3 linked regions of the Homo sapiens genome follow. The protein of the gene in region 1 purifies or fractionates together with the protein of each later gene. This does not show direct contact. Each region holds a gene or a part of one and is shown in the gene's direction. Other genes may lie near its edges.

The links.
Region 2: the proteins of C1orf174 (region 1) and PARP2 purify together in Homo sapiens (co-immunoprecipitation; 2 studies listed by BioGRID and IntAct, with this or other methods). This does not show direct contact.
Region 3: the proteins of C1orf174 (region 1) and AHCYL1 purify together in Homo sapiens (co-immunoprecipitation; 2 studies listed by BioGRID and IntAct, with this or other methods). This does not show direct contact.

What each region holds. Positions count from the first base shown.
Region 1 is NC_000001.11:3,890,273-3,893,923, reverse strand, and holds part of C1orf174 (UPF0688 protein C1orf174), read left to right. Parts: intron 1-927; coding exon 928-1,041; exon of another isoform or gene 1,042-1,175; coding exon of another isoform or gene 1,176-1,183; intron 1,184-2,144; coding exon of another isoform or gene 2,145-2,298; intron 2,299-2,866; coding exon 2,867-3,355; intron 3,356-3,651.
Region 2 is NC_000014.9:20,346,505-20,350,155, forward strand, and holds part of PARP2 (poly [ADP-ribose] polymerase 2), read left to right. Parts: intron 1-358; coding exon 359-409; intron 410-3,651. UniProt on the Homo sapiens protein: Poly-ADP-ribosyltransferase that mediates poly-ADP-ribosylation of proteins and plays a key role in DNA repair.
Region 3 is NC_000001.11:110,015,735-110,019,385, forward strand, and holds part of AHCYL1 (S-adenosylhomocysteine hydrolase-like protein 1), read left to right. Parts: intron 1-609; coding exon 610-726; intron 727-932; coding exon 933-996; intron 997-1,760; coding exon 1,761-1,849; intron 1,850-2,211; coding exon 2,212-2,282; intron 2,283-2,638; coding exon 2,639-2,733; intron 2,734-2,817; coding exon 2,818-2,916; intron 2,917-3,140; coding exon of another isoform or gene 3,141-3,185; exon of another isoform or gene 3,186-3,316; coding exon 3,317-3,385; intron 3,386-3,651. UniProt on the Homo sapiens protein: Multifaceted cellular regulator which coordinates several essential cellular functions including regulation of epithelial HCO3(-) and fluid secretion, mRNA processing and DNA replication.

The sequences.
Region 1 (3,651 bases):
GTACTATTTTATTATTATTATTTTTTCAGAGACACTGTCTCACTCTGTCACCCAGGTGGAGTGCAGTGGTGCAGTCATAGCTCACTACAGCCTCAGACTCCTGGGATCAAGTGATCCTCTCACCTCAGCCTCCCACATAGCTGGGACTACAGGTGCACACCACCACACCTGGCTAATTTTTAAAAAAATTTTTTAAAGATGGGCTTTCGCTGTATTGCCCAGGCTGGTCTTGAACTCCTGGGCTCGAGCGATCCTCCTACCTCAGCTTCCCAAGTAGCTGGGATTACAGGTGTGAGCTATCACACCAGTTTCTTTGTACTATTTTTTGCAACTTTCTGAATGCCGAAAATTATTCCTAAATAGTTATTTTAAATGTTATGTCTTTAATTAATTTCTTTCTTGTTATTAGAGGAGTTTGCTTTGCATTCAGGATAAAAGAGAGGTGGACCAGTTTGTTAATATTAAAATTTGTGAGACAGTCGCTAGCTGCATTCAGCTAATAGAATAGGAGTCTAATTTGAGGAAGAGAAACTTTGGTTTCCTCATGTTACCTTTTTTTAAAAACTTTGACAACGTATGAAAGTTGGAGAGCCTTCTAAGGAAGGGCATGTGCTGCTTATTCTAAACACTTTGAAGTTGACTTAATTTCCACTAAAGGACAAATGGTGGCTACTAGAAATATACAAGATAAGGGGGACAGATCGTCCCAAGCCTCCAAAATCGTGGAAATAGTAGATCCTGTATCCTAAATCCAGGCACAGTTTCATTTGGATTTACACATTCGGGCCACAGCTGTCTCCACAAAGATGATAAAATCCTGGGAGTGGGAGGGGCGGTCTTCGGGTGTTCTTTAGGTGGGAAATTCTCGTCTACATGTTCATGCTGCCTTCCTGAGAGCACTCTCTGAGTGGCTCTCAATCTCTCTAGCTCACAGGTGCAGTGCGGTCTTCAGCGCGCTTGAAAGCACGAAGTTGTTCGGCAGCCAGGTTGGCCTCTGCCCAGGAAGTTGCTGGTTCCACGTCTGCCAAGACAGCATGTCTGGTGAGCCCTGTTACCGTGGAGAACGCCAAGATCCTGACTCGAGGGTCCATTTTTATACAAAATTGCCACTCCAAGATGTGTTGCTTTAGAAAAATATCGACTGTTACTTATCTGCCAGAGGGGGACTATTGCAGATGAAAAGGTGACAGCACTGTAATTGCCTTCAGAGAAAGACACACTCTGCAGGCCAGGGCTGGCTCTCCTAGCACCCGCCCACCCGTGTGTGTGTCTAGACCCGGGCTCTGATCCTAGCACCCGCCCACCCGTGTGTGTGTCTAGACCCGGGCCCTGATCCTAGCACCCGCCCACCCGTGTGTGTGTCTAGACCCGGGCCCTGATCCTAGCACCCTCCCACCCGTGTGTGTGTCTAGACCCGGGCCCTGATCCTAGCACCCTCCCACCCGTGTGTGTGTCTAGACCCGGGCCCTGATCCTAGCACCCGCCCACCCGTGTGTGTGTCTAGACCCGGGCCCTGATCCTAGCACCCGCCCACCCGTGTGTGTGTCTAGACCCGGGCCCTGATCCTAGCACCCGCCCACCCGTGTGTGTGTCTAGACCCGGGCCCTGATCCTAGCACCCGCCCACCCGTGTGTGTGTCTAGACCCGGGCCCTGATCCTAGCACCCGCCCACCCGTGTGTGTGTCTAGACCCGGGCCCTGATCCTAGCACCCGCCCACCCGTGTGTGTGTCTAGACCCGGGCCCTGATCCTAGCACCCGCCCACCCGTGTGTGTGTCTAGACCCGGGCCCTGATCCTAGCACCCGCCCACCCGTGTGTGTGTCTAGACCCGGGCCCTGATCCTAGCACCCGCCCACCCGTGTGTGTGTCTAGACCCGGGCCCTGATCCTAGCACCCGCCCACCCGTGTGTGTGTCTAGACCCGGGCCCTGATCCTAGCACCCGCCCACCCGTGTGTGTGTCTAGACCCGGGCTCTGATCCTAGCACCCGCCCACCCGTGTGTGTGTCTAGACCCGGGCCCTGATCCTAGCACCCTCCCACCCGTGTGTGTGTCTAGACCCGGGCTCTGATCCTAGCACCTGCCCACCCGTGTGTGTGTCTAAACCAGGCTCTGAGGCCACTTGTGCTCATCGCTCTGCTCTTAGCGTGCTATGGAGTCATGCTGGCCCATTGCCGTGCAGCCTCACCGCCAGAGGCTTGAAGAGAAAGGCAGAGTGGGTGGGGAAAGGAATCTCATGCCGTCTGCCGTTCACCCTAGCCCAGCCATCGATTCCGAGGAGCGAGTTCCTGAACTTACCGGTGAAGTAGAGCCGCTTCACGGAGCCTACAGTTGAGGGGTTAGGACTTGGCCATATGCCAGCGTGTAGCACAGAGCTTTGCTCATGATGAGGTGCTTGGTAAAATTTTGTCGAAGTCAATTTCACAAATATTTCTTGAGCACCTACTGTGTGCCAGGCACTAATTGGTGAATAAAGCAAAGACCCCTGCCTTCACAGAGCTTATGCCCTAGCAGAAATGAATGAAAGCTGGATTCTTTTACTGTAATTGTATAATATATAAATATATGCTTCAGAATTCACCTGAGGAGCTGTAACGCCACTAGGGGAAACTGAAAGTGTAGGAGTGGTGTGGAGCTGTAACGCCACTAGGGAAAACTGAAAGTGTAGGAGTGGTGTGGGGTGTGTCTAGATTCAGTCTCGCTTGTATTTTGTCCCTTGGTGGCAAAACAGTGAAATGACGATCTGTGAAAGTTGTGGTCACAGCATCTTTATCATTTCCGATGTGAGAAGAAATACTAGCCTCTGGATTGAGGCCTGTTTTATTTGCTAGATATGTCTGGTTCCCCTTACATTTTTTTTCTTGACAGACTTCCTCATCCCACAAAGCCACAGACACGCGAACGTCCAAGAAGTTCAAATGTGACAAAGGACATCTTGTGAAGTCAGAATTACAGAAGCTTGTCCCTAAGAATGACAGCGCTTCTTTGCCAAAAGTGACACCTGAGACCCCTTGTGAAAATGAGTTTGCTGAAGGCAGTGCCTTGCTTCCAGGCAGCGAGGCTGGCGTTTCTGTGCAGCAGGGGGCTGCAAGTCTTCCTCTCGGTGGCTGCAGAGTTGTGAGTGACTCTCGCTTAGCAAAGACTAGAGATGGCCTGTCCGTGCCAAAACACAGTGCCGGGTCCGGAGCAGAAGAATCCAACAGCAGCTCCACTGTGCAGAAGCAGAATGAGCCAGGGCTACAGACAGAGGATGTGCAGAAGCCACCACTTCAGATGGACAACAGCGTCTTTCTAGATGACGACAGCAATCAGCCAATGCCCGTGAGCCGGTTCTTTGGAAACGTTGAGCTCATGCAGGTAAGAGCGGCGCCTTCCTCCTCCCGTGGGTACTCAGGCAGCAGCTGCACATTCAGGTCACACACTCCCCACTCAGTGCAGGTAAATAATGCCTCGACACAACATTAAACATAAACTAATCATTTTAACCCACGAGGAGAAAATGAAACCGTTGGCTAATTGGGGGCTCTCCCTGCATCTCCCGAGCTGAGAATCACTGCTCTCGGGAAAGGTGTGTTTCCATGAAATCAGGTTTGTGGTTTTTTTGAACATCCACCCCGCGCTTGCTGTTAATTTCTTTTGTTTTGAACCCAGCA
Region 2 (3,651 bases), on another chromosome or scaffold:
TATATTTTTAGTAGAGACGGGGCTTCACCATGTTGGCCAAGCTGGTCTCGAATGCCTGACCTCAAGTGATCTGCCCACCTTAGCCTCCCGAAATGCTGGGATTGCAGGCATGAGCCACCATGCGCAGCCTAACTCAGAATCTTTTGTATAGTTAAAAAAAAGGAAGCATGTTTTCATTTATAGTAAGGTTACACCCAGGTTACTGGTAGAACATAGGTTTGCAATTCTTTCCTTGGGAGATGAATGTTGATGTTGCTGTAGAATGATGACTTGAGCCATAAGAAAATTTAGAGCCTCATTTAGGATGTCAGGGCTGAACCTATACTAATGTTGATTTTTTCTCTCTCTCCCTTTCTAGGCTCATGTGTATTGTGAAGGAAATGATGTCTATGATGTCATGCTAAATCAGGTAAGAGGCAAGAAGAGGTGGCACCATTATATTTATGAGACCATCTTCTTGATAATTATTGATGATAGCATCACAGTGTTCAGATCTTTAAAGTCCCTTTTTTTTTTTTTTTTAAATTTTGTTTTTTCTTTTTGAAATGGAGTCTCACTTCATCTCTCAGGCTGGAATACAGTGGCACAATCTCGGCTTACTGTAACCTCTGCCTCCCAGGTTCAAGCAATTCTCCTGCCTCAGCCTCCCAAGTAGCTGGGGTTACAGGCGTGCACCACCACTCCCAGCTAATTTTTTGTATTTTTAGTAGAGACAAGGTTTCGCCACGTTAGCCAGGGTCTGGTCTCGAACTCGTGACTTCAAGTGATCCACCCACCTCAGCCTCCCAAAATGCTGGGATTACCAGGTGTAAGCCACCACGCCTTGCCTAAAGTCCTTCATATGTGTGTGTGTATATATATATATATATATATATATATATATATATATATATATTTTTTTTTTTTTTTTTTTTTTTTTTTTTTTTTTTGAGACAGAGTCTTGCTCTGTCACCCAGGCTGGAATGCAGTGGTGCAATCTCGGCTCACTGCAATCTCTGCCTCCTGGGTTCAAGCAATTCTCCAGCCTCAGCCTCCCAAGTAGCTGGGACTACAGGTGCAGTGTCTGGCTAATTTTTTGGTATTTTTAGTAGAGATGGGGTTTCACCATGTTGGCCAGGCTGGTCTTGAACCCCTGACCTCAGGTGATCCACCCACCTCACCCTCCCAAAGTGTTGGTATTACAGGCATGAGCCACTGCGCCCGGCAAGTCCTTTATATTAATATTAGCCATTAGTGGTTAAACACCTGAGTACTCAGCCCTAGCACACTCTTATCAGATAGCAGAGTCCTCTGTGAGAAGATTTTTTTTTGCAAATTTCATATCATTTATTGAAATTGTTAACTCTCTGTTCATATCCTTTTGCACATTTTTTTTTTTTTTTTAAACAGACAGGATCTTGTTCTGTCACCCAGGCTGGAGTGCAGTTTGTACAGTCATAGCCCACTGCAACCTTGAACTTCTGGGCTCCAGCAATCCTCCCACCTAAGCTTCCTGAGTAGCTCGGACTTCAGGCGCATGCCACAAAGCCTGACTAATTTTTAAATTTTTTATGGAGATGAGAATCTCGCTATGTTGGATAGGTGGTCTTGAATTCTTGGCCTCAAATGATCCTCCTGCCTTGTCCTCATGAGGCACTGGGATTACAGGGATGAGCCACTGGGACAAGCTGTTTTGCACATTTTCTAAAGTTATTGGTCCTTTTCTTACTGGTTTCGAGGAACTTTATATAATATGGAGAATAGCCTTTTGTCTGTAATACAAACCACTTGTGTTTTCCAGATTTGTCATTTACCTTTTGGTTTTCCTTATAGTACACTTTTTGCCCATATTGAAGTTTTAAATTTTTTCTGTAGTTAAATTTATTAATTTTTCCTTTTTAAAAAATTTTGGGTTTTTTTTTTTTTAATTTTAGAGACAGTGTCTTGCTATGTTGCTCAGGCTGGCCTTGAACTTGTGACCTCGTGTGATCCTCCAACCTCAGCCTCCCAAGTAGCTGGGACTACAGGCATCTGCCCCCAAGCTCAGCTTTCTTTTTAATCAACCTTTTTCTCTTGTTTACCTTTGTGGTTTTGAGTAGATAATACATTTGCCTCATTAATATATTTCCTGGATATGACTTCATGTTTGAATTTATTGATCCAACATATATAATTTTAACAACCAATTAGTATTTATTTCTTACTATTTCTTCTACTTAAAATACCACGAGCAGATAGAAAATACCTTAAGGTTAGCCAGGTGCAGTGGCTCACGCCTGTAATCCCAGCACTTTGGGAGGCTGAGGCGGGCGGATCACCTGAGGTCGGGAGTTCAAGACCAGCCTGACCAATGTGGAGAAATCCCATCTCTACTAAAAATACAAAATTAGCCAGGTGTGGTGGCATATGACTGTAATCCCAGCTACTCGGGAGGTTGAGGCACGAGAATTGCTTGAACCTGGGAGACGGAGTTTGTGGTGAGCCGAGATCGTACCATTGTACTCCAGCCCTGGGCAACAAGAGCAAAACTCCTTCTCAAAAAAAAAAAGAAAAGAAGGAAAATACCTTAAGGCAGCCAGGTGTGGTGGCTCATGCCTGTCATCCTAGCACTTTCGGAGGCCAAGGCTGGAGAATCACTTCAGGTGTGAGTTCAAGATCAGCCTGGGCAACATGGTGAAACCTTGTCTCTACAAAAAAATACAAAAACACCGGGCATGGGCCAGCTACTTTGGAGGCTGAGGTGGGAGGATTGCTTGAGCCTGGGAGGTTGAGGCTACAGTGAGCTGTGATTGAGCCATTGCACTCCAGCCTGGGTGACAGAGGGAGACCCTATCTCAAAAAAATAAAAAATAAAAACCATAAAAACATTTACAAAAAAATTTTTTAAAGGAAAAGAAAATATCAAGCTGGGCATGGTGGCTTATGCCTAAAATCCCAGCACTTTGGGAGGCCAAGGCGGGCAGATCACTTGAGTTAGGGGTTCAAGACCAGCCTTGCCAACATGTTGAAACTCCATGTCTACTAAAAATACAAAAAAAAATTAGTCTGGCATGGTGGCGTGTGCCTGTAATCCCAGCTACTAGGGAGGCTGAGGCACAAGAAATTGCTTGAACCTAGGACACAGAGGTGGCAATGAGCGGAGGTTGCACCACTGCACTCCAGCCTGGGCGACAGAGCAAGACTCTGTCTCAAAAAAAGAAAATATCTTAGGCTCCTTTTTGTTCTAACATCTAATGACCTTTTTTTTTTCACCAGTGGGCTAAGGTCGTACAATGGCTTTAGAATGTGAGCAAGCAGGAGATAGAGGTAGGAAGGGGCAGCATGCTTAACAAAAAAGAATGCCTCCATATCCAGGGCTCGGCCATACAACACCAGCTGCTATGCCTTATCATGGACTTCTCTCTCTTCACTCTGAGTGATTTACTTACAGATACCTCTTTTTAGATACTGGCCATATTCTCTCTCAGTATCTCCAAGTCAGGTCAGGTTAGGTATGGGACGGATGTGGCAGTGGTTTTGCGTATCCCTTGTCCCCTCCCATTATTGCCCTGCTCTCAGCTCATTGTCAAATTTCTGCAGCTGACAAACAAAAGCTGTGAGTAGAACTGTCAAGGAGTAAGTCATTTAACAGTTGAGCATAACAGGTTTAGACCTTTGGAGCATCCAAATTGT
Region 3 (3,651 bases), about 110 Mb from region 1:
CCATTTACTCCATTGAGTGATTCTCAACTAGTGTTGAGGGGCGGGTAGGGAATAAATGTATCTTGAAAAACTGTATTCAATATTGTATTATCATTTTATATTTGAAATATGAAAAACAATCCTATTGTAAAACTACATGTTATACACACTACAAAAAGTAAAACTGGGCAAAATATTCTTGGCTTGTTGGAATACTGAAAAGATATCTGAAAGAGTGTTTCTTGGGGGCACATTGCGCATGCTTACTCACACACACACGGAACCATATCAGAATCATTGATAGTCTTTGTTTATCAGAAGTAGGCATGGGTTTCTATTGAAAAATGCTGATCAAAGGAAATAACACTCCCTATAAAGGGAAGAGAAGTACATTTCTTCAATTGAAAGGCTTTTTTTTTTCTTCCAAAAAAGGGGTAAAGGGAGAAGAAAATGAAAAGAAGTGTGGAGGGATGACAAGGAAATAATCATGTTTTCTAATATCCTTGGGCAATAAATGAGACTGGGAAGGGCAGCATGGAACTTGAAGAGAATTAGGCAGATTTTGCCACAAATTATGTTGTGCCAGCTAACTTGGTTTTTGTTTGTTTTTGTGACCTCTTCTCTCTTTAGGCTGTATCAGCTCTCCAAAGCTGGGAAGCTCTGTGTTCCGGCCATGAACGTCAATGATTCTGTTACCAAACAGAAGTTTGATAACTTGTACTGCTGCCGAGAATCCATTTTGGATGGGTAGGTTGAATGTATATATATTCAAACTTCTAGGGGCTCTGGTCTTCCTTTGGCTTTAAAAGTTTATTAGAGGGACCATTTCATACTGAGCTCAACCAGCTTCCAATTGATATTCTCATGGGCATTGGCCCACACTTTTAACTTTGTGAAGAGGGACTGAGTTTGAGCTATTAACGTTTGAGTTGAGCCCTTGTCTGTTTCCACAGCCTGAAGAGGACCACAGATGTGATGTTTGGTGGGAAACAAGTGGTGGTGTGTGGCTATGGTGAGGTAAATAGCTGGGTCTCAGTGTCTCTTTCTTTTTGTGTACTTATTAGAAATATTGGGTAAAGGAGGCTTGTGCTGTCAATCTAGAGTCACTGATACAAGGTTTAAATTTTTTTAGATAATGTATCTCAAACAATAGCAAAAGCCTTTTATTCAGATTTATGAATAGAAACATACAAAATGAATTGAGTTTTCAGATTTTACCATTTTGCCTTGTGGAATAGATACTAGTATCATCTTCCCCAATTATAACAATAACCTTTAATGAGACTTAATTCAAGTGAATATATAGCATTTTAGCCCCACAAGTGACTTGCAGTAGAATTAAGGGTGGAATCTGAAATGGCATATAGTTGAATATCTCCAAACTGGAATAGGTCACATATTTTGTTGTCTTCAGCAATGACCCAAAGAAGTTCCTGAGCTACGAGGGTATCCTTGAGTAGATTCTTCTCAAGTAAGAGAATAGGAAATTAGAGGTTGCTTAGAGTAAGTTGCTTTTGCTTAGTCTTGTTTCCCTGATGAAAACTGCTATGCAAAGCCCCAGTCCTTCCTATGACATGTCTGCTAAATTACCTCTCTAACTGAGGTTCACAACGTAATCTGGGTCTGTTTCTGTTCTGCTTGGGATTGGAGCGTCTGTGCAGCTGCTCACCAGATGACAGGCTATTTCATGAAGGTTAATTCCTGTCTCACAAATAACCTACCTACCCTAAATATCCATGACTTAATGAACCTAACGACTTGACCTTTCTTTTGTTCTGCAGGTAGGCAAGGGCTGCTGTGCTGCTCTCAAAGCTCTTGGAGCAATTGTCTACATTACCGAAATCGACCCCATCTGTGCTCTGCAGGCCTGGTAAGAACAGAGTGATAATACTATTAGATTCACTCTAGGTGCTTTATGTTATTGAGAGTTCATAATTGAGTATATTAATCATTTTTGCAGAAATCACCTAGGGGAAGAGAAGGCTAGGACTGCTCTGTTCTTCTCACTCTAACCCTAGGGCTCTCTGAGAGCCTCTTGGCATTTTTCCTTCCTAGAGGGAGTCTTGGGGACTCTGAAGAGGCCAGTGTATATAGTTTAGCAGAGCTTATCACTCACCATTCCTGTGAGGTGGCACTGGATCCAACTAGAAGGGGATCTTGTCTCATTTCATGACCATCTTCCCTCCCACTGCCTTCTTGCTTTACTCATAGTGTTCCTTTCTTTTCTTCCAGCATGGATGGGTTCAGGGTGGTAAAGCTAAATGAAGTCATCCGGCAAGTCGATGTCGTAATAACTTGCACAGGTAAATAACTTGCATAGAGAAGTGTTTATTCAGAGGCTAAATCTTGAAAGTAGTCTGAGTGACTTTCATACAAAGGAGGTGAGACCTCTGTTCAGTATAAAGGTCTCAGAACTAGAATAAGCTATCAGAACCTTAACATGTTTTCCAGAGTAAAAAACTTTTTTCCCTGGTGACTTTTTATACTGCTTGATCTGAAGACCAGATAGCCTAAGGAGCGGTTATGCATGTCTTCTCTCAGAATGTCTACATGTTCTTTAATGCCAGCAAGCCTCTGGTCTCCTATGTTCTACCTGAAAGCCAGCCAGTACCTTTGTTGCCCGGCATCTCTTTCCTTAACCACCCATCTTTTCTTTTAGGAAATAAGAATGTAGTGACACGGGAGCACTTGGATCGCATGAAAAACAGTTGTATCGTATGCAATATGGGCCACTCCAACACAGAAATCGATGTGGTAAGGCTTCTCTCATTTGTTGCTAGGCATTTCTCTACTACCTTTCATTAATAACCATAGTCAACTGTGCTTTCTTCCTTTCAGACCAGCCTCCGCACTCCGGAGCTGACGTGGGAGCGAGTACGTTCTCAGGTGGACCATGTCATCTGGCCAGATGGCAAACGAGTTGTCCTCCTGGCAGAGGTACACACAGAGAAGGACCCTGGCAGAGCAGCACAAGCAGAGTAGTTAGATCTATGAGGGGGGAGGGGAGGGAAACAAATATTAGGCCTATGTTTCCCTGAATTTTATCTTTGGAGAGAGAGATATTTCACAAATTGGTCCCCAAAATAAAACCACTTTAAAAAAATCTACTTTTTACTAAGTAACACTATTTCCTAACCACAGCTGATTCTTTAACCTTTCAGACTCAGATGGATTTGCAGAAAATAGGAAAAAGCCTAGAGTCCTGATCTGGAACTGTAATTCTTCCTCTTCCAACTGAGTCTAGAGGGGTGTAAAGTCCTCTCCCGCTTTGGCTTGACTTGTATGCCATTGGAATCTGAGACAGAGCTCATCCCAGGGCTCTCTCTTACCTTTCCAGGGTCGTCTACTCAATTTGAGCTGCTCCACAGTTCCCACCTTTGTTCTGTCCATCACAGCCACAACACAGGTATGTGGCAAAATGCCTGCTTACACTGCACTGCAATTTGTGGAACTGGGCGTAGATCAGTTCCAGTGAGGGTGTACTGTACTATGTTCTCATCATCCTATTCTTTTTTGATGTAATAAATTGTGGAAACAGGTATTCTTAAGTATAGAAAAGAGTCACTAAGTCAGTATTCGTTGAATTGGCTGTTTTAGTTGAGAATATAATGTTCCAGCTTAGTTTTATTTGATTTGTTCTTTCGTTAGGAACTAAACAAAAACAACAAATCC